3 separate regions of the Homo sapiens genome follow, and all the other regions are linked to region 1. The links come from fine-mapping of genetic effects on gene expression. A gene starts in region 1. Each other region holds a variant in brackets. All regions are shown on one strand. Distances are between the middles of the regions. Region 1 holds the start of COL27A1 (collagen type XXVII alpha 1 chain). Region 2 has its middle 19 kb from the start of KIF12. Region 3 overlaps COL27A1 (collagen type XXVII alpha 1 chain).

Evidence for each region.
Region 2: its variant is fine-mapped to the expression of COL27A1 in tibial nerve (GTEx, PIP above 0.99).
Region 3: its variant is fine-mapped to the expression of COL27A1 in sun-exposed skin (GTEx, PIP 0.99). The same link has a PIP of 0.9 or more in esophagus mucosa.

Annotation. Positions count from the first base shown.
Region 1 is chr9:114,152,364-114,160,538 of GRCh38, forward strand. It overlaps COL27A1 (collagen type XXVII alpha 1 chain), which reads left to right and starts at 3,174. Exons shown (of 61, transcript NM_032888.4): 1 at 3,174-3,649. The coding sequence starts at 3,588. LOC105376225 (a long non-coding RNA gene) reads right to left here and starts at 1,905. Exons shown (of 5, transcript XR_930256.3): 1 at 732-1,905; 2 at 477-634; 3 at 230-324. RefSeq lists an enhancer at 981-1,502 and silencers at 3,039-3,158, 4,046-4,340.
Region 2 is chr9:114,113,868-114,122,042 of GRCh38, forward strand. No RefSeq gene overlaps it. Among named protein-coding and RNA genes, the nearest start is that of KIF12, 19 kb to the left of the region's middle. RefSeq lists enhancers at 1-42, 5,802-6,096. The variant G/A (reference allele first, on the strand shown) is at 3,858.
Region 3 is chr9:114,173,772-114,181,946 of GRCh38, forward strand. It overlaps COL27A1 (collagen type XXVII alpha 1 chain), which reads left to right. Exons shown (of 61, transcript NM_032888.4): 4 at 4,520-4,573. Among named protein-coding and RNA genes, the nearest start is that of COL27A1, 22 kb to the left of the region's middle. The variant G/A (reference allele first, on the strand shown) is at 3,569.

The DNA of each region.
Region 1 (8,175 bases):
AACCTGCCTGAAATCCAACTCTGTCCTCTTGGTCTTTTTGTGACTCTTTCACCGGAGATGTCCTTCTCCTCTGTGGCTGCACATTTATCCAACACACCCTTTAAGATCCAAATGCCACCTCCTCCTGGGGGCCTTCCTCGGTTTCTTTCCATCCCTTAATCAGCTTCACAATTCAATTGATCTGCATCTCTTTGGTGGCATTTATCACATTCTCCTTATATTATCTTACCTTTATGCAGTTGCAGGGGGTTCTCCATGACATAGTGATGTCTGATGTCTCCCATCCAGACTCTCTTCCCTACCCCAAGTTGCTGTGCGTGTCTCCTGTCCACATTACAAATGCGTGCATGACCAGAAGGCAGGACCATATGGAAATTTTTGTCCCTGCCCCCACAGTGGCAGACCCTTTTCCCCCAGAGTCTTGTACAGGGGTTTGCATACTGTAGGAGTTAAAACAAATAACTTATTTAAATTACCAACGGTTTGAGCATCTATTGTATCCCAGGCTCCATGTGTCAGGCTGGGTGTGGGGACACAGAGATGGATCTGACAATGACAGCGCCATGTGATGTGTGCTGCAATCCCGGTGTAGGGCAGAGCAGCTCACCAGAGTCAGGTGAGCTCTGGCCTGCACCTAGAAGAATAACCAGGTTGTGAACAGGCAGAAAAGGGGCAGAGGGAGAACCTGGGAGGAAACAGTATGGAGAAAGCATCGAAGTAGTCAAGCTTACCTGAGCCTGGGTGCAGGTATCAGAGAGACTGGAGCTCAGGAGGCCGGATCTGAAGCTGGGGAGGCTGCTGAGGATCTGCACAGAACCCCTTAAAGCCTAAGATTTGGATCCTTATGACAAGATGCAGAAGTTTGGAGTTAGGTTACCTGGGTTCAAATCCCACCTCTACCACCTACCCGTTTATGTCAGCTTTCCCATCTGTAAATGGAGAGAAAAAAGCAGGCCTCCCTTAAACCCCAGCACTGTGTGGGTCAGGGTCTGGACTAGGGTGTGGCACATGCAGAGATGCAGCATACCAGGAGATGCCAAGAAAACTCAGCAACGGAGGTAAATTGCCCAAAGCAGTGCCCCAAACCCCTAAGTAATCAAAATAATATTTTAATTTTTTACTTTTAAAATATTTTTAAAAGTATCAAAATTAATGCAAAACCCCACAATGAACAAAATATCTAAAATGTAAATAAAGACAGGGTCTGCATGGTACCAAGTATGCAACTAAAAAAACATCAGTTATGATTGAAGAGGGAGTTCTCAACCTTAGGGGGCCGTGGACTTCTGAAAACCGGAGGAAAGCCCACGGCCCCTCTCCCCTGAAGAATGCACAAACATGCTCAATTTGTGCACAGTTTGGGGGTGTTCCTGCACTCCCTGGGGTTCGTGCACATGGAAGTTAAGAACTCTGGTTCAACATTGGGGGTGCGGGGGTGGCGGGGGTGGTTCCACGCGCCGGCCAGCAGCCTGCCAGTTCCCCAGTCCCGCGACTGGCCTCCCTCCTGGCAGCCATGGGTGCTCTGCCCTCTGCAGGAAGCAGCGCACAGCTATGCAGCTCCCCCAACCCCCCTACCTCCCCTCTCTCGGCTTGGGACTTTTCCTAAAGTTTGTTGAAACCAGACACCTTGCTCGACCGAGCCCGCGTGCAGCCAGGGTTTAAAAGGCCGCCTTCAGCGCCCCCTCCCCGCCCCCAGCGGAGACTTCAAAAGGCCCGGCGGGCGCCGCCGCCCCAGCACCTATGAGCCGCCCCCAGCTCTCGGAGCCCGCGCCGGAGCCCGTGGACGCAGAGCTGCCGAAGTTCGAGCGCAGGCGGACCGGGTCGGCGGCGCAGTCCCGCGCGCCCATGCCCCTCCCGGTGCCGCTGCGCTCCGCGCGCCCGCGCCCCGTTTAGGGAAGGGGACCTCGCCCCCCGCCCCCGCGCCCACGGCTGCGGGGACCCATGAATACAAATGCCGTTAGGCGCCGGAGGAAGGACCGACCGGCCAGCCTCGCACGTAGGGACCCAGTAAGTGCTTGGGGGCTCCTGGAGCGGTGCGAAGTGTTATATGCCTGTGTGTGCGCGCGCCTAAAGGTGTGCGCGTATGGGGAGGTGGGTACACGCGTGAGGAGTGAATGCGTGTGTGCACATGTGCGGTGGGCACTCTCGGAGAACTGTGTGCAAGTGAGGGTGTGCGCGCGTGTGTCCACCCGGGGTGTGTACATGTGTGGGGGCGATATGGCCAGGATAGCGTGCATTTGTGCCTGTGTAAGCATCCGTGTGCATGCTTCTGCGAGTGTAGAGTATCAGCGTGCGCCTGAGCCCAGATATCTGAGGATGCGTTTCGTGTGAACCTAGGAAGGGTGCGTGGCTGTCCCAGAATGGGACCGTGTGTGAGCGTGTGTCTGAGTTTGGGGAAAGGGTGGATACGTGTGGGAGTGTGTGTGTGCACCGGTGAATAAGTGTAACTTTGCTCGTGAACGAGTGGCAAGAGGTGGTAGAGGCGGAGGGAGCTGTGGTCCCAGGGCTGGACTGGAGTTTTGGGTGTGAGAATTTGCCCGGGGGCCAAGGTGTGCAGCTCTTAGCTCCCGGATGGGATCCGAGGGAGTTTTTGTCGATTCTGGGGAGGTGCGTGGTTAGTGGTGGTGGTGGGGTGCGGTTAGATTCCAATTGCTGACAGAAGGGAGAGAGAGGGTGGCAAACCCTTAACAAGCCCACCCTATATGTTCTCCAGGGCGCTCCGAGTCTGGGAGCGCAAACTTTTGGTGGGCGGTGGGGATCACGATACTGGTTGTCGTGGGCGTCTGGACACCAAGTTCTGGTCCTAGCTCCGTCCCTGAAACTGTGGGTTTCTTCCAGGAGTAGAATTTGGCCCTTCTCCCCTACCCCAACCCCCCATTGGAGGACCCCCAGCCTCACCAGTCAGAAGTTCCTAATCTCAGAACGGTGATCAAATCACCGTGAAGCCCTGGGCAGCCCCTTCCTCTCTGTGAATCTGTTTCCCCATCTATACAAGGAGGAGGGGGGCGGGTGTCCCATCGGGGCTGTAGTGGGCCAGCTGAGGCTGTACCCTTGGCTCCGGCCGGCAGGGGGCAGCAGGGGGCAGCAGAGGGCGGCCGGGAGCGGGGAGGAGGGAAGGTGGAGAGCCACCGCGGGCCGAGACTTTAAATCGCCTTCATTTCCCCCAAATCCTTCCTTTTCCTCTCCTCCCCCAGGCCGGCGGGGAGGCAGCTTCCACCGCCCTCCGCGCGCCCTCACCCGGCCTTGCTCTGCCTCCGGGGACCGCCAGCAGCCCGCCTCCAAAAGTTTGATCATCTCTCTCTCTCTTTTTCTTGCTTCTTCTTCCTTTTTGGTGGAAGCAGAAAAGGACCGAGGCAGGGGCGAGCGCGGCGCCCGGACTCCTGGGACCATGGGCCTGGCGCGGGCGCCCGCGGGGCCCCAGCCGCGCTGCCTGCCTGCTCGGGCGCCCCTGGGCGCGGGGCTGCGCTGGGGGCGCGGGGGCCGCGCGCTCTAAGCCGGCCTGGCGCGGCGGGGCGGGGGGCTGGCGGCCCCATGGGGCGCGCCCACACTTGCCCCCCGGGCTCGGGAGCATGAAGTAGGGGCCTGCCATGGGAGCGGGATCGGCGCGGGGGGCCCGAGGCACAGCGGCGGCGGCGGCGGCGCGCGGGGGGTGAGTACGAACTCGGGGACGCCCCCTCCCTAGCTTCCTGCTGCTCCAATCTCGGGGAGGGCCGGGGTTCCCCGCCATGCGGTCGCTTCCAGCGGAACGTCAGCTTCCTGCCCCTTCCTGCGCCCCCGCGAGGCGGGACGCCAAGGGTTAATAGGGGCTGCGCCCCCGGCCGGGCGAGAGTTGGCGAACGCTGCCCGCCCTGCCGCGCCTGGCCCGGCTGCCCGATCCCGTTGGGGCGGGGGCAGAGCCAGCCCGGGGGTCGGGGGTGGGGGTGGGTGGTGGCGCCTGGAGCGGCCGGCGGGGTGCGGAGGGGGGCTTTTTGGATGCTTGGGGGAGGAGGGGGGTCTCCGTTTGGGGCCGTCTCGGTGTGTTCCGGTGTCTCAGTGTCTGCAGGTCCCAAGCCTGTACGTCTCCGTTTCTATCTGTTCTTGTGAAATTGTCCGCAAGTTTCTAGGTCACCAGGTCTCGGGTTCTGCTCCTGTCTCCGTGTCTGTGTGGCTCTGCACGTCCCCGCGTTTCTGGAAATCTCCGCGTGTTTGTGTTAGTCGGCCTGGGTCTGTGTGTCTGTGTTTCCTGCTTCTCGGTTCCTGTCCCTTTCACGTGTGTAAGAGAGAAAAAGTGAGAGCCAGCATGTCAGAGCAGAAAGGGCCCTGGGCGATCACTGTGCGGAACCCCTCAGTGTACAGATCGGGAGACAGGGCCGGAGAGGGGCAGGGACTCTCCCAGGAGCGGCTGCGCGGAGCTGGGGCCCAGAGGCTGGGATTCCCAGCGTGTGGAGTAGGAGTTGTAAGAGAGAGTGAGCCTGTGCTGGAGCCGGCGCAGCGTGTGGGTGTGTGTGGGAGCCAGCAGCATGCAAGCAGCCCGTTGGGGCCTGTGGACGGCGCTCCTCTCTTTCCATCCTGCCCCCAGGACACCAGGACACTCCCCAGAGGCTGTTAGGGCTGTAGCTGGGCCCTGCCCCCTTTGAGCTGGAGTCCGCGGGATGACACCCCCTCCTTTCTTCCCCATGTCTTGGAAAAAGCTGGCTGTTTGCGATTCCCCCGCCCCGCACCCCCTCACCACAACACACACACACACACACACACACACACATACGCGCGCGCGGCACCAGTGAGCACACTGCTGACTCATTTTCTCCAGAAGACCCTGCGCCAGGGTAGATGCCAGCAGTTGGGCAGAAAAGTGGTGCCAGGCGAGCACCCCATGGTGGGGCTCCAGCTGTGGGCAAGTGGGCAGTCAACACTGCTCGGAGGCCCAGTCTCTGCCTTCTCCTGCCTCCCTGCCTCCCTTGACATCACGTTGTCCTGCATCATGTGCGCTCTGGCGCCAGCATACCTCTGCTCTCCAGCATGCCTCTGCTCTCCAGCATGCCTCTGCTCCTGGACCCTTCTGGCCGGACCAAACTCCATGTCATGTCTATGGACACATCCCTGGCCTCTGCCTCCTTCTGTTTCCTCCCTGTACTCAGAACATTCTCCCTCTCCTGTGCCTCCACCAGCGCTGCGGACCCTCAGCAGCCAGCAGCCTCCTGGTGGTCTCTGTCCCTTTCTGAGCACACTCCCCTGTTCTTTGTTGGCATTTTCTCTCCTCCATCTCTGTCCAGGGACCCTCTTGATACCCACATGCCTGGCTTGGCTACGCAGAGTAACATATCCACTGGTGGTAGGGGACAGCAGTGAGACACTCACAGAATCATGTTGGTGGGAGGCAGGCGGCACCACAGGAGGGCCATGAGGCTTGCCATCAGGCAGGCTCGAGTTTGAATCCTAACTCTGCTGTGCCAGCTTGGGTGAGCCACTCTGCTGCTTGTTTTTCTCTTCCACAAAACCGGCACCTTATTCCTAGCTGGCTGGGTTTTGTGAAGATGAACAGGACCATGCTTGTAAAGGGCTTAGAACAGGGCCTGGCATGTAATAAGTGCTCAGTAAACGGCAGCTGGTATTTGTATTATTCCCTTCATGTTGAATGGGTGTGTGAGTCAATGGGAAAGTTCTGGGCTGCATCCTCTCCAGACGATGACCTGTCTGTGTTCCCATGGAGGACGTGGAAGCTGTGAAGAAAGCCCAGGCATAGCCGTCTGGGCACAGGGGGTCTGGCCAGTCCATGGAGGCAGGTGGGACAGGTCCACCCCACTTGATGAGCTGTAGTTCCAGCTAGCTCCCTTTTCAGCTTTTACCCCATGCGTGAACAGCCAAGCCTAGTGTCCACAGGGCCACTTTCCCTGTGTGTTTCTGTGGCCTGGGTCTCAGCTCAGAGCCCTCAGTGACTGTTGAAGCTGGTGTGGGTTTCTAAGATCCTGTGTGTTTCCAGGTAATAAGGATGGAAGAAAACTATCCAAGCAGTCTGCCGGTTCTGGCAGTGTGGTTACCCAGGAGTAGCCCCATTTGGTGCACTGGCAGAGGGCCTTTTGCAAGGGCATAGAAACACCTGGGTTTCCTCTTTGGAGGGCTGTGTGGCCAGACGATGTTTCCATGTGATGTTTCCTCGCGGCTCCCGTTTCGGCTGCCTCCTGGCCTCCCTGGCCTCTGTGCTCTGGTCTTCCTGACATTCTGGAGCCCTGGGTTTGCAGAGACAAGGCCCACAAGACAAGTGGTGAAAACAGAAGTCTGGAAGAACAAAGCCCTGAGCCAGCACAGGCACTAACCATGATTAGCAGTAGCCTAAACAGGATTGGAACGGGAGCAAAAGAATCGGCAGGGCCTCCCTCTGAGAGCCAACTTTCCAGGCCTGGAGCTGACTTAGATGGCTCGTTGGCTCCCTGGGTTGCATCTCTGTTCCTGCTGGTGAAGGCTGGGGCTCGGGTCTCTGGCAAGTAGGAAGTCCCTGCAAGTCTCCAATTTCTGCTCCATGGAGACAAGTCAAATGAAAAGGACTATCTGTTAAGTCATAGACTTGAAGCACTGTGTGACTTCGGGCAAGTAACTTGCCCTCTCTGGGCCTCAGTTACGCATCTTTTCAAAGAAGGGAGAGAGAGGACTAGAATCTGACCCCTAGATGATCTTAAATGGCCTTCTTCCACTCTGACATGCTCTATACTTGGGAAGTTTATGGGTCAAGTGCACACAGAATCCATTTCCAAGAGGGTCAGCTGCATTTGTCAGGGAGAATGAATGGAGGTTGAATACTTCTGTAATAGGCCTTCAGGGCTGAAGTCCTCAAGTTGGAAGCCATGGTGTTAGGAAGCTTAATTGAAGAGAAGATTCTGATTCCATGTCTCCTGTGGACTTCTTCTTCCTGATTTTCAGAGATTACAAGGATTTGCCCTCTAATTCTCTGCAGAGTAGTCATTTTGGTATAGCTGTAGCCAGGGAAACTGACCGAGAAGGACATGTGTCGTTTTTGTACCTTCTCTTCCCCACCTCGCCTTTCTTTATCAGTTTGGGAAACTTCCTAGGAAGTTTGGTATGTGACATAATCCAATGAAGGACTCAAGGAGTGAGGGCAGGTGCCAGACAAGGGCCAGGAAGAGAGGGGGCTGGAAGGAGATGGAACAGAAATAAATGGGATCGCAGGAACACAGGAAGGCAAGGGGTAGTCTCCTCTGAGGAGGCATTCATGGAAAAAATGATTCTAAATTTGGGGACTGCTGAATGACAGAAAGTACAGTCAACTTCTTTATTGCAGGATTTCTCCGAGCCTTTGATATACAGTTGTGCTTTCCGGATTGTCAAGACTGGGATGCAGGGTACAGCTCTTCCCTAATGTATCTGGCCAATTTCCTAGAAAGCATGTCCCTGGTGGGTGTGGGAAATACTACTGAAGAATTATGAGCCCAGACGTTGCCCAGGATGGAAGTACCTGCCTTCCCTGAGCCTTGGTATTCTCCGTTTGTGTAATTAAACAAAGCTGCCTTTTATTTCTCTCCAGGGCTCATGCTATTGCCATTTGCTTCAAGTAAGCAAGTCATGCCAGAAAGGTTGGCCCTGCCCTTCTCCCCAGGCAACCCCAGGGCAGCTTGACACTTTGACCTTTAGTCGTTGCCCATGGTGAGCTGGGGGCCTGGCCCCATGAAAAGGCATTCTCACAACAGTGGCAGCAGATTGGAGAGGATGAAGAGGAAGGACCAAGGATTATCTTGGAGCAATTCTGGAAAAAGTCAGAGTAGGGGAATTAAGGCTTTGGGAAGACACTTTTTAAAGTCTATTTTTTTTTTTTTTTTTGAGGCAGAGTCTCGCTCTGTCGCCCAGGCTGGAGTGCAGTGGCATGAACTTGGCTCACTGCAAGCTCCGCCTCCTGGGTTCACGCCATTCTCCTGCCTCAGCCTCCCAGGTAGCTGGGACTACAGGCGCCCGCCACCACGCCTGGCTAATTTTTTTGTATTTTTGGTAGAGATGGGGTTTCGCTGTGTTAGCCAGGATGGTCTTGATCTCCTGACCTCATGATCCGCCTGCCTCGGCCTCCCAAAGTGCTGGGATTACAGGTGTGAGCCACCGTGCCCGGCCGTTTTTTAAAGTCTAGAGTCCTGTCATATCAGGTGATATTAATTCATCTTATAAAAATATACTGGACACTTCCTGTGTGCCTGC
Region 2 (8,175 bases), 38 kb before region 1:
TCTTGCCTCCCTCCCTTGGCACATATGCCCACTTTGGTACTACTACTACTATGACCTCTACTAGTATTGCTGCCACTGTCTTCTCGTAGTCCTTCTAGTCCTTTACTACGACCCTGCCAATGCTTCTACTATTACTGCTGGCACTTCTTACTATGACCACCACAACCAGTACTTCTACTACTATTGCTTCTACTGCCTCTACTGCATCCCCCGACAAATCTCATCTTGAATTGTAATCCCCATGTGTCAAGAGAGGGACCTGGTGGGAGCTGATTGGATAATAGGGGCAGTTCCCCCCACACTCTTCTCCTGATAGTGAGTGAGTTCTCATGAGATTTGATGGTTTTAAAGTGTGGCACTTCCCCTTTGCTCACTCTCCCTCTCTCCTGCCATCTTGTGAAGGTGGTGCTTGCTTCCCTTTCGCCTTCCACATGATTATAAGTATCCGGAGTCCTCCCCAGACATGAGGAACTGTGAGTCAATTAAACCTCTTTTGTTTATAAATTACCCAGTCCCAGGTAGTCTCTTTATAGCAGTATGAAAATGGTCTAAAACATAGTACTTCTTACTCTATTACCACCAGTATTTCTACTGCAGTACTGCCACCAGGATTGCTTCTCTTGTTATTTATACTACTACCACTTTGCTACTACCGTAATGATGACTACATACTATTTGCAGCTACTGCTAATAGCAGCAAACGTTATGAATCACACACAATGGGCCAAAGACTGAGCTAAGCACCCTGTGTCAATTGATACAATTTAAACCATGGCAACAGACATCTGTGGTGTAATATTATTGACAAAAAGAGTCAAACTCTGTAAAATGTTTATTTTATTATTAAAAATTATTATGAAATTGAAAATTATTATTAAAAAGAGATTTATTCTGAGCCAAATAAGAGTGACCATGGCCCATGACACAGCCCTCACTCAGGAGGCCCTGAGAACACGGGCCCAAGGTGGTTGAGTGCAGCTTAGTATTATACATTTTAGGGAGACATGAGACATCAATCAAATACATTTAAGATATACATTGGTTCAGTCTAGAAAGGCGGGACAACTTGAAGCAGAGTGCATGTGGGGGCTCCCAGGTTTATAGGTAGAATAAAAAAATTTCTGATTGGTAATTGGTTAAAAGAGTTATTATCAATAGAAAGGAATGTCTGAGTTATGATAAAAGGTTGTGAAGACCAAAGTTTTATCATGCAGATGAAGCCTCCAGGCAGCAGGCTTCAGAAAGAATACATTGTAAGTGTTCCTTATCAGACTTCAGGTCTGCGTTGATGTTAAATAGGGGTCAGCTTTTCCTGAATCCCAAAAGGGAGGAGGGCTACTGAGGCATGTCTGACCTCTGCTTCCCATTATGGCCTGAACCAGTCTTTCAGGTGAACTTTGGAGTGCCTTGACCCAGAGGAGGGAGTCCAGCTGGTTGGAGGGCAGGGGGCTTAGAATTTTATTTTTGGTTCACAATATCCTCCCTCCTTTATTGATGGGGAAACTGAGCTTTGCAGAGGCTAAGTAACCTGCCCAAATTCATAGAGACAGTAAAAGACTGAACCAAGACCTCAACCAGCCACCTAACGACAGGGACCAAGTCTGAGATCTAGAACCTTTCTCCTTTGTCCTTTGTCTACCTTCAAGAGTATATCCTTGTCTTCTCTTCAGTCCTCTGGAAAGAATTACTTGAAGTCAAAGAAGGAAAGGGGGCCTACCTCTACAGATGTCTAGAATGCTGTGAGCAATGTACATAGTAGGTGTTCAACACATACTGTTTGAATAAATTGGATTCTAATGATAACCTTTTGAGGTAGGAACAAGGATCTTGATGTTGCAGTTGGGGACACTGAGATTTTCAGAAACGCTGTGGTCTAGCTAAGAGGTGAAGTTGGGACCAGATGCTAGAATTCAGTCCTTTCATGACCTCGAATACAAAGTGAACTGTCCGACCCGACCACAAAGTCTTCTGTGTGCATTGTACGTCACGGTTTGCAAAGCTCACACATCTGTTATTTAATTCTCACAACAGCCCTCAGAGGGGGTGATCGGTTCCACTGTAATGATAAGGAAAACCAGATTCAGAATGCTAAGGCAGCTTTGGAAGGGCTCATGGAGAGGCAGCAGCAAATCCAGGATTGAACCAACTCCTCCCTACTAACCCAAGGGTGGGAGCCTCCCAGCGAAGACTCCAAGAAGTCTCTCTTGGGACAGCCCACCGCCACTCCCTGTCCAGCCACCTCAGCCCCTAGGGTGGGCAAGCCCATGGCCCCAAGGGGTGGAGAGAACCGGTTATTTCCAGCCTGGTACTTAAGGGCTGGCCAGGGAGGAGGGAGGAGGGTGTGAGCCGGCTGGCAGGCTCTGTGCTCCCAAGAGGGTCTGGCCTTTGGCTGCTGAGAACTGGGCAGGGGGTCAGGAACTCCTGTCCAAGCCACCCAGGCCAGCTGAAGCTGGGCAGGTGTCCCAGGAGAGGGCAGGCCACTCCCTCCCCAAAAAGGCAGGAGTATGCAGCCAATATGCACACAGGCGGCTCATTCAGCCCCTGCAGCTCCTTGGCCCTGCCCTGGGCCGTGGCCCCCAGGCTGAGGCACTGCCCCTGCTGTTCTCGGGAGATGGAAACAGACAGCAGTTCTGATCAGGACCTGTGGGTCAGTGAAGAGCAAACACATCCTGCTCTGAGCACCGATTGGGTGCCATCCATCCTCTGCAGCTCTGTAAGGTGGAAATTCCCGCCTCCCACGGTTCCTCTCCCACTTGTGTGTGGAATGCGATCACCACGCTGCCTCCCTTTCAAAGCGCCCAGTGTTTCCTAACTCAGGACCTTTGCACATGCTGTCCCTATGCTGGGGGTACCTTTCCTTTGGCTTCTCACGTGACTGGCTCCTTTGTCTTCAGGTCTGACTGTAAAAGGTCACCTTTCAGTGGCATCTTCCCTAGCTCCCCTCACTCATAATTTTCCCCACCTCCCATGCACACACCTTGTCTCTGTCACCCTCCTCTACTTTCTCCTCAGCATTCTTATTTATTTATTTATTTATTTATTTATTTATTTATTTATTGAGATGGAGTCATCTTGCTCTGTCACCAGGCAGGAGTGCAGTGGCGTGATCTCAGCTCACTGAAACCTCCGCTTCCCGGGATCAAGTGATTCTCCTACCTCAGCCTCCCGAGTAGCTGGGATTACAGACACGTGCCACCACGCCCAGCTAATTTTTGTATTTTTAGTAGAGATGGGGTTTCACCATGTTGGCCAGGATGGTCTCGATCTCTTGACCTTGTGATCCCCTCTCCTCGGCCTCCCAAAGTTCTGGGATTACAGGTGTGAGCCATCGCGCCCTGCCCATATTTATTTTTTATTGATTTTTGTTTGTCTCTCTCCCCATAGGAATAAAGAATCTATTTTATGAACTATCAGGTCCCCAAGGTCCAGCAGAGGGCTTGACACATAGAATCAACATTTATTGAATGAATAGATGGAAGGGAAGTGAAGGCTCTTGTCCACCTTGTCCATGTTCTCATTGTTAAAGAAGGCATCACCAACATTGAAACTCGGGTCTGTCCGTCTCTAAAGAGGCCCCCATTTCACCTGTGGGTGTGCTCAGTGAGGACACCATCTTCCCTGCAGTGATTTTTTTTCTCTGCCCCAAAGGCACGTTCTTTATACATGGGGCATGGTGTCTCCTCCAACTTCCCATCACACGTCCTCCCGCCTCTGCTTGCATATCTCCAAAAGACAGGGAGCTCACCCCATCCACTGCAATATTAGAAAGTCCCTTCCAAGACTCTACGACCTTCAGAACAATGGAACGGGCAGTTCTTCACAATGTTCTCAAATGCTGAAGAGGAAGAATTGCTGTC[G/A]TTAGCACAAGGCTGTGGACTTGGACAATACACTTTTCTGTTTATTCATTGATTTTCTGAGCCCCAACCATGGGCCAGGGCTGTGGTGTCGAACTAGAGAGCAAAAGAGCCTTGGTGGCCGCCTTCTCGATGATGTGTCAGGTCCACTGTGGCCTTTGGGCCCTAGAGTGGTGGTGGCAGGGGGGTGATGGAGGAGGCATGTGGAGTGGATCAGATGCTTCTTGAAGTCGATAGTGCACACAAGTCACCCAGGGATCTTACTAGGATGCAAATTCAGGGACAACAAATCTGGGTAGAGGTTCTATGTTTCTCCTAAGCTCTCGGGGGATGGTGATACCACTGGTGCATGGACCACACTTTGAGTAGCAAGGTAGAGACTCAACTGACAAAAGAAGACAGTGAAGCCTAGAGCAAGTCAGGGACTTGCCTCGGGTCACTGGTCAGGCAGCAGGAGCTGAGAAGGGACGGCCTACCTCCGCGGGCCAGGGCTCTGGAATTCGTGGGGCAGGCTGGGCTGAGTATGCCTTTGTGAGGCATGGCATACCTGGACTCACCCGAGCTGCCCGTCCCTGCCCATGAATAGTGGGCCTCTTTCCTTCCTGCATAAGGCTTGGCGGGCGCAAGCCCACGGCCGCCCCCTCCCCTGCACACACACTTACACACACTCACACACCCCTGCCGGCTCAGCTGCCCTCCCTGTTTGGGGAAAGTCAACAAGAGCATTTGAAAAGTCTTTCTGTGTGGAGAATCTGTTTGTATAGGGGGAGGAAACGGAGAGCTGGCCAATAGGTAGAAATATTAATGAAGCTTGTTATAAAGGGCCCATTCACGGCTCTCCGAGTAAATAGGGCTCTTGTCGGGCTGCCACGTTATCTGCCAAGTTCAAGAATGTGGTTTGAAAAAATAGAATTTAAAGGGGTGAGGTGGAGCCTTCAATGGCTGGCCTGCTGGAGCTGGAGCCAACTCCAGGAGGAGCCTGTGCTGTGGGGGGCTGTGGCTGGGGACACTGGAGGTGCTGGGTCTTGTGGTGAAGGCTGCCTGGGAAGAGGGGCTGGTGAGGAGCCGCTGGAGTTCCGACTTAGAGAGAATTCCTGTCCACCGGTGTGGAATGCCCCGTGCCATTCCTTCCTCCCCTTGGTGCCTGGCACAGGGCTTGCAGATCCTCTGCTTAGCCCCCCAACCCAGTCTACCTTAACTCTCCTGCCTGGGGATTTGCCTCTTGGGATGTTGGTGGAGGGGATCTCTATATGGTAGGAGGAGGGCTTTGTAGTAATTCTTAGCCATAATGCTGTGCTATTCCACAAACCTCAGCCATCTTCTCCCACGCCCTTACGAGGTCCTACTTTATACATTCTTACCAGATGCTACATAAGAAAGAGCATAAGAGACTGAGATGTTTGACTCAGAGAAGGAAAGTGACCAGCTCAAGGTCACTCAGCAAGTGTGTAGCAGAACTGGGACTTGCTTCAACCAGTTTCCTGTTGGGTCATTGTTCCCGGCACTGAAGATAGTGCCTGGCCTGAGGGGCTGTCTTGTCATTTCACATGTACAGTGTCTTACTTTTAGCCCTGGACTTAAAGCAACTTATAAGCAAGGACCGTGTCTTATGCTTAGTTTTCCCCTGGCCAGCTGTGTGGTCTTGGACAGGTGACTTTGCCTCTCTGAGCCTCAGCTTCACCATTTGTAAAATGGGGTCATTGAGACCAAGCCCTCCTTTCCAGAAGACTCAGTGAGAGGATGTTGGTGAAGTGCCCAGTGCTATGCCAGGCCCTCGGTGGGTGGCCCAGGAACAGTGGCTGAGGGCACTTCTTTTTCTGTTCCAGCCCACAGTGCAAGGGTAGAGACTCCAGGAAGACTGTCTCCTTTACACTTGGACCCTAGAAGGCTGGTCTGTGCTGAGGGTCATAAGAAGCTGGTAAATTGAGAATCAGGGGTTTCTGCCACCCATGGCATTAGGCGGCAGAGATACATGTGTGTGTGAACTATCACGAGGGTCTGTCAAACAGGCCCTGCAGGAAGCCCAGGCAAGCCCGGGTGACCTTTCATCCTTTCCCCCAGAGAGCTGCACAGAATACACCTCTGTCAGACAAGGGTTAACCTGGGTGGGAGGGAATATTTACACTGGCTTTTCTTTGCAAATAAAAGTTGGTGGCTGGGTGGGGGTGGGGGGGTGGGGAGGGTCGGGGGGTGTCCCATAAAACAAAAAGGAAATAATCTATGCAAAAACTAAATGGAAACGTGTTTTAAAAGACTCTACCAAGAGCTTGCTGAGTGACCCTGAACAGTGGGGACTTAGGGAAAAGTTGACAGCATCCCCTTTAAGAAGAAGTGGTGTAGCATAGGTAGGGCCATGAGCACAGGCTTTGGGGCTCACAGACCGAGGTTAGAATGTGGGCTCTGCTCTTCTCTGGCTATGTGACCTTGAGCAAATCGTGGACCTCTCTGGGCTTCCATTTCTTTGATTTGTACAAGAAAAGAGAAGAGAGGGTTAAAGTATGTGAAGGTCCCTGGCACTTCATGGATGCTCATTAAATGTCAATTTCCTTTCCTTTCTGGGCCTCTTGGCAGGTCGAGGGGAAGTGTCTGACAGGTCTCACCAGCCAGACTGGAGAGAGACACAGCTCTGCAGGTCTCAGTGCCTGCACACCAGCTCAGTAGCCTGATGCTGACTATGCCCCTAGAGCCCTTTACAGTTTGTAAGGCATTCACCTACTTGCCGTTAAAGCCTCCCAAGAATCCCATAAGGTGGTCATGGCAGCATTTACTACCTTATGGTGCTGTGACTGGGAAAGGGTAAGGGACAAGAACCCAGTGCTCTGGGGCGGGGCCCAAGTCTGTCTTCATTCCTTCATTCCTTTAGCAAATATTGATTGAGGACTTGTTATGTCCAGGCACTATGCCAAGCATGGGAGATACATAATGAATAAAAATCGACACAGATGGGTGGTTGATGGATGGGTGGATGGGTGGATGCTGGTCAGATTATGGGTGGGTAGATGGATAGATAGATGGATGATGAATGGATGGGTGAATGGATAGATGAATGGATGATGGGTAGATGGCTGGCTGGCTGGATAGATAGATGATGGATGGATGGGTTGATGGATGGATGGATGATGGATGGTAGATGGATAATGGATAGGTTGATGAATAGATGGGTGGATAGATAGATGGATAGATGGTTAAATGATGGATAGGCAGATAAATAAATGAATGGATGATGGATAGATGGGTAAATGGATGGATGGATGGATGGATGGTGGATGGGTGGCTATGTAGATGAATAAGTGAGCGAAAGAAGGATGACAAGTCCCTTGAGGACAGAGCCCTGGTCTATTCTTTCCACCACTGGGTCCCCAATACTGAGGATGGTGCCTGATACAGAGGGATTAACACTTGCCATATGAGTGTCTTCTTTGGTTGAGTAGACTCAAGAACCAGGCTGCCTGGGAGTCTGAGACCCAACTCTGCAACTTCGTAGCTGTGTGGTCAAGAAGAAGTTACTCAATCTTAAGTGTCCTCAGTTTCCTCATCTACAAAATGAGGTTGACAATACTTTATAGGTTGTTGTGAGGATTAAATGAGTTAATACATGGACATCCCTTAGATCAGAGCTGTGCCTGGTGCACACCAAGTCCCACGTAAGCATTGGCCACATTGATCATTTTTATGGTTTCACATCTGTGCTCCCTCCCGTCTCCTGAAAAAGATAATAAATCCTCTTAAGGCAGGGCTCTGGGCTCTGGGTGCCCTGCCTACTATGCCTCCTAGTAAAAATATGTGTTGACTCTGTGGCTTCAGAGAAAGGAAGATCTTAAATCCAAAGCAGGGGCAAAAAAACTCCAGGGTACACATTCCACTGGGGCCAAGGGCACAGCTGGCCCCTGACTGAGGGAGGCAGGATGGCAGGACAGTCAGAGCCTTGGGCTGGGAGAGGAAAGGTTGCATTTCCATGCTGGCCCTGGCATGGGCCTCCTCCTGGGGCCCAGGCTTCTTTGAGCTTGGGTCTCCGCAGCTCCACATTGACAGAGATAGTCTCCCATGAACCATTCAAGTTACAGACTGAGGAAACACAAATCAGGCTATCTTCGGCTCCTCATCCTCAATTTTCCCTTCTTTGAACAGATTTTTCCGGATCGGAAAAACTGAGCCTTTGCTAGCCTTGGAACACACATGCTCTCTCTCTCCAGGATGAAATGCTGTGTCAGCGTCAGCTAGTGGTTGAGGATGGCACCAGATGGAGCGCTCATTAACGCCCCCGAGCAGCAGCTCAGGGTCCCCCCGGGTCACCTCCCCAGAGTACACAGGCTCAGCTTTC
Region 3 (8,175 bases), 21 kb after region 1:
GACTGATGGTGGGTGTTGAGGTGGGGACTTTGGTGCACTGAGAGAACTGGGAGGGTCTGGACATAGTCTCACATTTGCTTGGAGAACTGTGCTATGAAAATACTAACCTGGGGTTAGTCGGTGGAGCAGGGACAGCAGGGAGCCTGAATGGATAAGAGTGTCATGACACATGTCAGCTAGACAGCGGGGGTTTGGGGGAGGACTGCCCCCATTTTTTTTTTTTTGAGACAGAGTCTTGCTCTGTTGCCCAGGCTAGAGTATAGTGGTGCGATCTCAGCTCACTGCAACCTCCGCCTCCTGGGTTCAAGCAATTCTCCTGCCTCAGCCTCCTAAGTACCTGGGATTACAGGCATGTGCCACCATGCCTGGCTAATTTTTTGTATTTTTAGTAGAGACAAGGCTTCACTATGTTAGCCAGGATGGTCTCGATCTCCTGACCTCCAGGCAGGGCCCAGACTCACTGGGGAGAGTTAAAGGAACAGACTATTTACGGAGGGGTGGACAGCATCAAGGGAACCAGCAGAGGCAGGTGAAACACAAGGGGCCTGGAAACTGCAGGAAATTGTTACCACACCCAGACCAGAAGGTCCCAGGGAAAGATGTTCCCAGAACCCAATAAGAGTTAAAACCTTGAGCAGGGGTCTCCTCACAGAAGCAGGGGCCATGGGCGAATACAGCTGCAGCCAAATTATAGCACAGCAGAGAGGGCACAGGGAGAGAAATATACCCTGTCCTCCCTTCTGTGCACTCTCTTCCTGGGGTCTCCCATTGGCCAAACCCAGCTGGAAGCCAGAGGTCAAGGAAGGCCGGGGTATAATCTGTAGAAGTCAGCTTCCCAGGGCACGGCACAGATCTGGGGAGTAAATGGAGAAGAACCAGCATGCATATGCCATCTCAGAATATGGGTATTACATTCCCATTTCACAGCTGGACAAACTAAGGCCCGGAGGCCCAGGGAGATTAAGTAACTTGCTCAAGGTCATACAGAGCTGTACTGATGCCAAGAAGCTCTGTTCCAGCAGGTCCTTCCCAGGACAGAGGCTAGGGAAGTCTGGGTGCCCTGTGTGAATTCTTAGGAATAATCATGAGCTCAGATGGTCAGAGATGGGAGAGCCCTTTGAGGCCCCCTATCTACCCCCAACAGGTTACAGACACAGAGTCGAGGCCTAGAGATCAAAAGGACATTGCTCAGGGTCACATGGTAGGTAGCAGCACACCTAGGATCGGACTTTGGTCTCCTAAACCCCAGGCTTGTAAAACCTCTCATTGCTTGGCAGGCAGAGGCTCTTCCAGCTGGACACAACGGTGGACTTGTTCCGTAGGATGGGGTTCCCCTAGATCTGGCTGTCAGAGGCCAGGACCCTTGGGGGAAGCCCCGAGGGGTCTGCTTGGTTGTTTCCATGGCTCTGTTTGCGTACGCCTGGAGCCCAGGCCTCCTCCACCTCCCCCAGGCAGGCCTGAGCCCCCGCTCTGCTCCCCCTCAGCTCCAGGCCCTCTCAGAGGCCCCGTTGTTTGCAACGCAAAGTGGAAAATCCCACCCCGGCCTCGTGAATCATCCCAGAGTCACCCGCTCAGGCTTCAGGCCCTGGAAAGAAATGGCAGCGTTTTTCCACTGCGGAGAGAACAGGCAGGGTCTCGGATCAGGGGAGAGGGGCCAGGGGGCACCCGTGCTCGCCACGAGCAAAGTGGGCACTGAGTAGGGGAGGGTCCAGCCCGTGGCTAGCACTGGGCAGCCGGCGGTCCCCACCCAGGTTGAAGGTGGAGTGAAGGGATTGGCCAGGCCCGAAGCTGGGGCCGCCCCGTCAAGGAGTCCGCCTGTGGGCTGACATCACCAGGCTGGACCCTGGGTCCTGAGTGGCACTCAGAGTCTGCTCTGCAGATGTGGTGGATGAGGTCAGACTCTATCCTGGATGCCCCTATTTCTGGGGCAGAAGACATGCCAAGAGGGAGTGTCCAGGCCTCTGCAGCTGCAGCCCCACCAGGGTCCATGAAGGAGCTGCACCCACGGAGCCTGTTCCTCCCCGGAGTCCTGGACAAGCCCTTCACCCTGCTGGGTCTTTGCCTTCTCTGTGAGATGGGAAGAATCTCGCTTTTCCTCTTCACTTGATAATGTAGCAGAGGAAATTACCCCCACCTTGGCTTTCCGCAACTCAGGAAATGCCAGTGCCAGGAAGTTTCCAGGATCTTCATTTCACAGATGTCCAGAGAAGAGAAGGGACTTACTCAAGGCCATATACCTAGTTAGAGTCACACTCAACCAAGATTGTGTGGCAGCTGCCCAGGGTAGGAGAACAGGTCCAGTGGTCCTGGGTTTGAATCCAGGCTCTGCCTCTTGTTAGCTGTGTGGCACTGGGCAAGTCACTTTTCCTCTCTGAACCTCTCTCTGGTTTCTTACCTGTTGAAACGGCATGGTATACCTACAGTATGCTTCGTCTCAGCCCCCTGCTTTTTCTTTAATTCTGGGTCCACCTGGGACAGTTGGGTCAAGGAGGGCCTTCTAAGAAGGGACATCTTTTGCTGTCCCCTAGAAACAGATGTGAAGGAGGATGGCTTAAAATTTTGAGTTGAGGACGTTCCAGAAGCTTGCTTCACAGAAATAACAGCTAACATTTTTTTTGAGCATTAATTGGGTGCCAGACACCAGGATTAGCACTTGTTATAGATTATCTGTCGGCTAGGTGCTATTATTAACCTCATTTTACAGTAATAGAAAAAAGGCTTGGAGCCTGGAAATAGCTTTGCTCAAAGCCACCCAGATAGTAGGTGGGTGGGGGGGGGTGCCCTATGTGAACCCAGGCCCGTGGTGTTACACCATACTCTACTGCCCAGAGACAGCTGGAGAGGAGAAGTGGGTAAGACTGGCACCCAGAGTCCAGAACCCACAAAACCAGACAACCCCTCTACCCACCCCTGGAACTCTGCCGCCAATTTGGCCAGAGGTCTCTGGATGCTCAGAGGTAGCTGGGACTTGCCCGAGGTCACAAAACAGACCCTCCTCCTTCTGCTCAGGGCTCTTGCCCAGTGACCTTGGTACCCATATCTGCCTGTCTGGATCTCTCCTCTGATTTTTATTCATGGACGAGCAAGCACGTGGTGTTCACAGGCCAGAACTGTGAGCCGAGACTGCCCAGCATGAGATCTGGATTAATTACCAGCCAAACCAGACTGGGTTTTCAACACCGATTTTAACTCTGGGCAGGAAATCTGGAATCTCATTGATGGTTATTTGAAACAAATGAATTCCCCAGGCCTCACACATCCTCGAAAGCCTGGCTTCCTTCAAAGGCTGCAGGCACAGTTCTTCACATCAGGCGCTTAGTTAATCCTCATTTACTCCTTCGAGGTAAATGCAGTGGTAGCTATTGGACCCATCTTAACGGGGAGCATCTGAGACTCAGATAAGTGGGAGGAACTGCAGGAAGTGTGCAGCTATTAAGTGGTAAAGCCAGGATTTGAACAAAGATCAGCTCATCCTTCAGTAAGTCTGCTCGGCTGCCTCCCTTCCTGTGTAAAGAGAAAAGAGATGAGGACACACAGATGCTCCTTAAATGCTGAGCTTCAGGGTTAG[G/A]TTTTTCACTTGTGGGAAATGGGGAGCCCTTAAATGTTGTTGAGCAGGGGAGGGCTTTTGGAAGGTGAATGAGGCTGTGTGGAGGAGGACTGCAGAGGGGAGGGAGGAGAGAGTAGAGGCAGGGAGACCACTGAGGGGGCTGCTGCCGGTTCTTGGGGAGTGGTGATGAAGGCTGGACCATGCTGTGGCCATGGGAACAGATAGAAAATTTGAGTGCCAGTTACATACCAGGCACCGTGTTAACATTTATCATCTCTCATGTCATCCTTGGAATCCCATGGGGAGTGTTTTATTGCCTCCGTTTGTATGGGCACAAGCTGGCTAAAGACTTGTGCATTTTGTCAGCGGCAGGCAGGGATCTGAACCCAGGCATGTCTGATTCAAAAACCCATGCCATGCTCTGTGTGCTGTGCTGCCTGTTTGTGGGGCAGAGATACTTGGTGTGACCTTGGCCAAGTCCCTTCTCTGTTCTGATTCTGCAGAGAATTTGGCTGAGCTCTGAGGTTTCTGGCTGTTTTATTTTATCAAACGTTTGGCTGAGCCCTGGGGATAGGCAGATGACTCATATCCCCTTAGTTCCTTTGAGGAGACTGTCATCTGATGGGAGACACAGGCTTCTAAGCAGATAATTCCCCAAGTAAGATAGCGGTCTTTAAAATAGAGGAAAAGAAGGGACTTTGTCCAACTTGGGGAAGGTTTTCTGGAGAAGGTGACACCCTAAGTTAGCTGGGTGATAAATGATGAGGGCGTCAGTGACTGAATAGTAGCTATGAAAGCCCAAAAGCCCCAAAGAGCATGAATTTCTCAGGGCAGGGACCTCAGGGGACTCCTCCTCTTAGCCGCGGACTATCCATGCCCACAGCTGCAGGCGGGATTGTTGAATGACTGCTTGAGCCCATTCTCTGCTGCCAGTGGGCACTGTCTAATGCTGTCTTCTTGTTTTCTCCTCAGGGTCCCCCTGGGCTACCTGGGCTACCTGGAATCCCTGGTGCACGTGGGCCTCGGGTGAGTTATCTCACACTGTCCTTTGGAACTCTTGGTGGCTCTTTGGCCTGCGTCTCACTGCCCCTGAGGTCTCGGGTTTGCTGTGTGTCCTCAGGTTCTTCCCTCCCCCTCTCTGGCACCCATATTTGGCTTTATCCATTTGGAGTGGACTTAGGGCTCTCAAGGGTGCTATATGGACAGATATGGCATGGAACAGCAATGACCTCTTGTAGGTCTCAGTTGTCCATTGGGGATATCACCCTTTGCAGCCTGGGGTGGGGAAGGGGCTCCAGAAGATCACATCCCTTCGGCTGGTGAGCTTCAGTGTTTGGCCAGGAAAACTGCCTTGGGGAATATATGACCCTTGCATCCCTCTTCCTGTTTCTGCAGGGCTCTCCTGGAGTAGGGGTGCGGACATAGGTACCTGGAGGGGCCATGCGGGGAGGAGTTGAGTTCCTCCTGCTGGAGAGAGGCTGGGGGACAGCTTGGCAGGCTGCGGTGGCTGACTGAGCTAGCCCAAGCCCGAGAGGGAAAATAGCTCCTATGTGATGTGCCTGGCACCTTCTTTTATGCTGCCTTATTTGACCTCTCATGCCCACCCCAAGTTCCCATGGGACAGTGAGATCATTCTCATTTTAGAGATGAGGAAACTGAGTAGGAAATGGCAAAACCAGGACTGGAACCCAGGCTCTTACCCATATACTGGAACCCTTGGAGATCCCCTTAGAGGGAAACCTACCTGCTTCCCTTAGAGGGCTGAGACCAACAGCACCCGGCATCTGTGCCCAGGCTGAATCAGCCTTTCCCACGCTGGGTGCCTGGTGAGGCCCTGGCAGAGGTAGCTGCCTGGGGCATATTTTTAGCTCTGAGCCCAGCGAGTGGTTCTGGTTATGCAATTACCCAAGCCCTAGTTCCCTCCAGACCTGGCCCTGTGCTCCCTGGGCCCAGGGCTCTGGAATCTGCCATCTGAAGCGGCATTTCCTCCTGGCTTCAGAGCCTTCATGAAGCACGTGCCCTCTGGGGACCACATAGATATCACAGACGCTGCTAGCCCATGGGACCTTGCAGCCTGGGACCAGGATGAGGCCGTTGACCTAGGCAGCCTACTCCCTTCCCCAACCTCCTGAGCCCCCAAGCCTCTGCGGTTTTGCTCTGGCTGTCCTCCTTTGTAAACTTGTCCTCCATTCATGTCTAAGAGCAAATGCCACCTTTATTTCTGATGACCACTCCCTTCTTGGAACTCCCGCAGTGGTTCCCCTGTCCCCTCTGGATGGCATGGGCCACTTTCTCAAAGCTCTCATTGACCACTAAACTCTGTTTGCTGAGCCACATGTGCAGGATCTCATTCCACCTTCCCAGCCATTCTGAGAAACAGGTTTCAATCTATTCCCATTTTACAGATGAGGAAACTGAGGCTCAGAAAGGTTTAGTTACTTCAGATAAAGTCAAAGAGAGTAAATGGCAGAGCCAGGATTGAACCCAGGCAGTCTGCCTCCAGAGCCTACCATCTTTTTTTTTTTTTTTTTTTTTTTTTTGCCAGAGTCTCGCTGTGTCTCCCAGGCTGGAGTGCAATGGAGCAATCTGGGCTCACTGCAGCCTCCACCTCCCAGGTTCAAGGGATTCTCCTGCCTCAGCCTCCCAAGTAGCTGGGATTACAAGCACACGCCCCCGGGCCCAGCTATTTTTTCGTATTTTTAGTAGACATGGGGTTTCACCATGTTAGCCAGGCTGGTCTCAAACTGCTGACCTCAAGTGATCCACCTGCCTCGGCCTCCCAAAGTGCTGGGATTATGAGTGTGAGCCACTGCGCCTAGCCCAGAGCCTACCATCTTAAGCATCTATTGTGCTTATTTTTCTGAGTATTCACCTGAGCCCCTCCAGAGATAGGCCTCGGTTACCTCTCTCTCCTACGTGATGCCTGGCAGAGCACCCTGCGTGCTGGAGGTGCTGGGCAAATGATTGGTGAAGAGTTCTAATGTAGGAGTCAAGAATATTTCTACCAAGAAGTTGTGGAATCTTAGGCAAGTCCCTTCTGTCCTTCTAGGCTCAGTTTCCCCATCTATAAAGGCTGGGGTCATGGTAAGGCATTTCTAAGTTTCCACCTAGCTCTGGGTGAATGACTCTCCTGACACGCTTCTAGGCTCTTTGCCTGCACGCCACCCCAACTCTCCCTGCCCGCCGTCCCACCATCATCCTGTTTCTAGACTGGAAATTCCATAGATTATAAAATTCCAAAGATAATAGAATGCTGGATTAAACAATCCCAGCTCCTCTCTGCACAGATGGGGGCTCTGGGGCTTAAGGAGGGGCATTCTTACCTGAGGTCGCCCAAAGCTCTCTGTCTTGCCCCTTCCTACCTCCACATATTCCCCCAGCCCATGGAGGGATGTTGGGGAATCCCAGAGCCTCCCCCACCTGGCTTTCTAGGCTGCAGCATTTATAGAATTGGTCTGCTTGGCTTTCAGTCAACTATGTGCCTCGTTTCTCTGCAATACTGGAGAGGGTTGGGGACGGGGGGGCAGGGAAACAGGAAGCCCCCACCTTCAGAAGCTGCAGATGGGGGAGCTGAGTGCTCTGGCCCACCATCTGTGGGGCAGCTGGGGCACGACTGGGGAGAGGCAGCCGCCCTTGACCTTGTGCAGCCTACGCCTGGCTCTGGTGGAACTGGGTGTCAGGAACCCCTCCTTGAACACTCCCTCCCAACCTCTGTCCAATTCCCACTGAGCTTGTGGTTAGACCTGGTTAGACCCCACAAGCCTGGGCTGGGGTGAACATCGGAGGGTGTTCCAGATTCCTTAGAGACTGCTGGGTCCCAGTCACTTACAGAACAGAGGGAGAGACCGAGGCTGGGGATTATGAGGTGGGGCTCAGAATTGGGACTCAGTCTCGATGCTTCCAGGTTCTGTCGCGTGCCAGGAGACAGTGTTTGGTGGACTGCAGGGGAGGGCAGGAGGGCTGATTATTTTGGAAGGAGGGTCACAAGAGGCACTGAGAAACTCCCCAGGCTCAGTGTGCTCTGGACACTGTTCCTTGCCGGTGCATTCGGAGAAGGGGAGGGTCCCAGTTCAGGCATCAAGGAAGAGAGGAAGAGGGAGGTGCCTTGGTTGGAATGTGACAGGCTGCAGCTGGGAAGCTGGCCTCAGAGAGGGAAGAAGAAAGCAGTTCACACACAGTTAGCCCGATGAATCAAGAGGGACGGGGAAGAGGGCAGTGTGCCTAGAGGCTGGTGGGGTTGGGAGGACCACTGGACCCTTGAGGGTGCCTCTCCTCACCTCCTATGCCCCAGATTATTCCTGCTAGACAAAAACCCTCAAGTATTCCCCGGCTCTTAGGGCTCTATTTATATTACTGTGCTGGAAGACTCTAGGCCAGGGCCCTTGCTGGAGAAAGTGGACATAACAGGACCCAGCTGTTATCGGGGAACTTGGATATGGCCTGGGAAAATCCAGCGCCATGAATAAACTCTGGACTTGAAGCCACCAGGCCCTGGACCCTGATCTCACTTGGCCACAAATCTGCTGTATGACCTTGATCAAGCCTCCTGGACTCTCTGGGTCCAGTGTTCCCAGGTGCTCTGTGGTCTCTGGAAGACCTTGAAAGCTTGGAGCTTGCAGGTGTCTAAG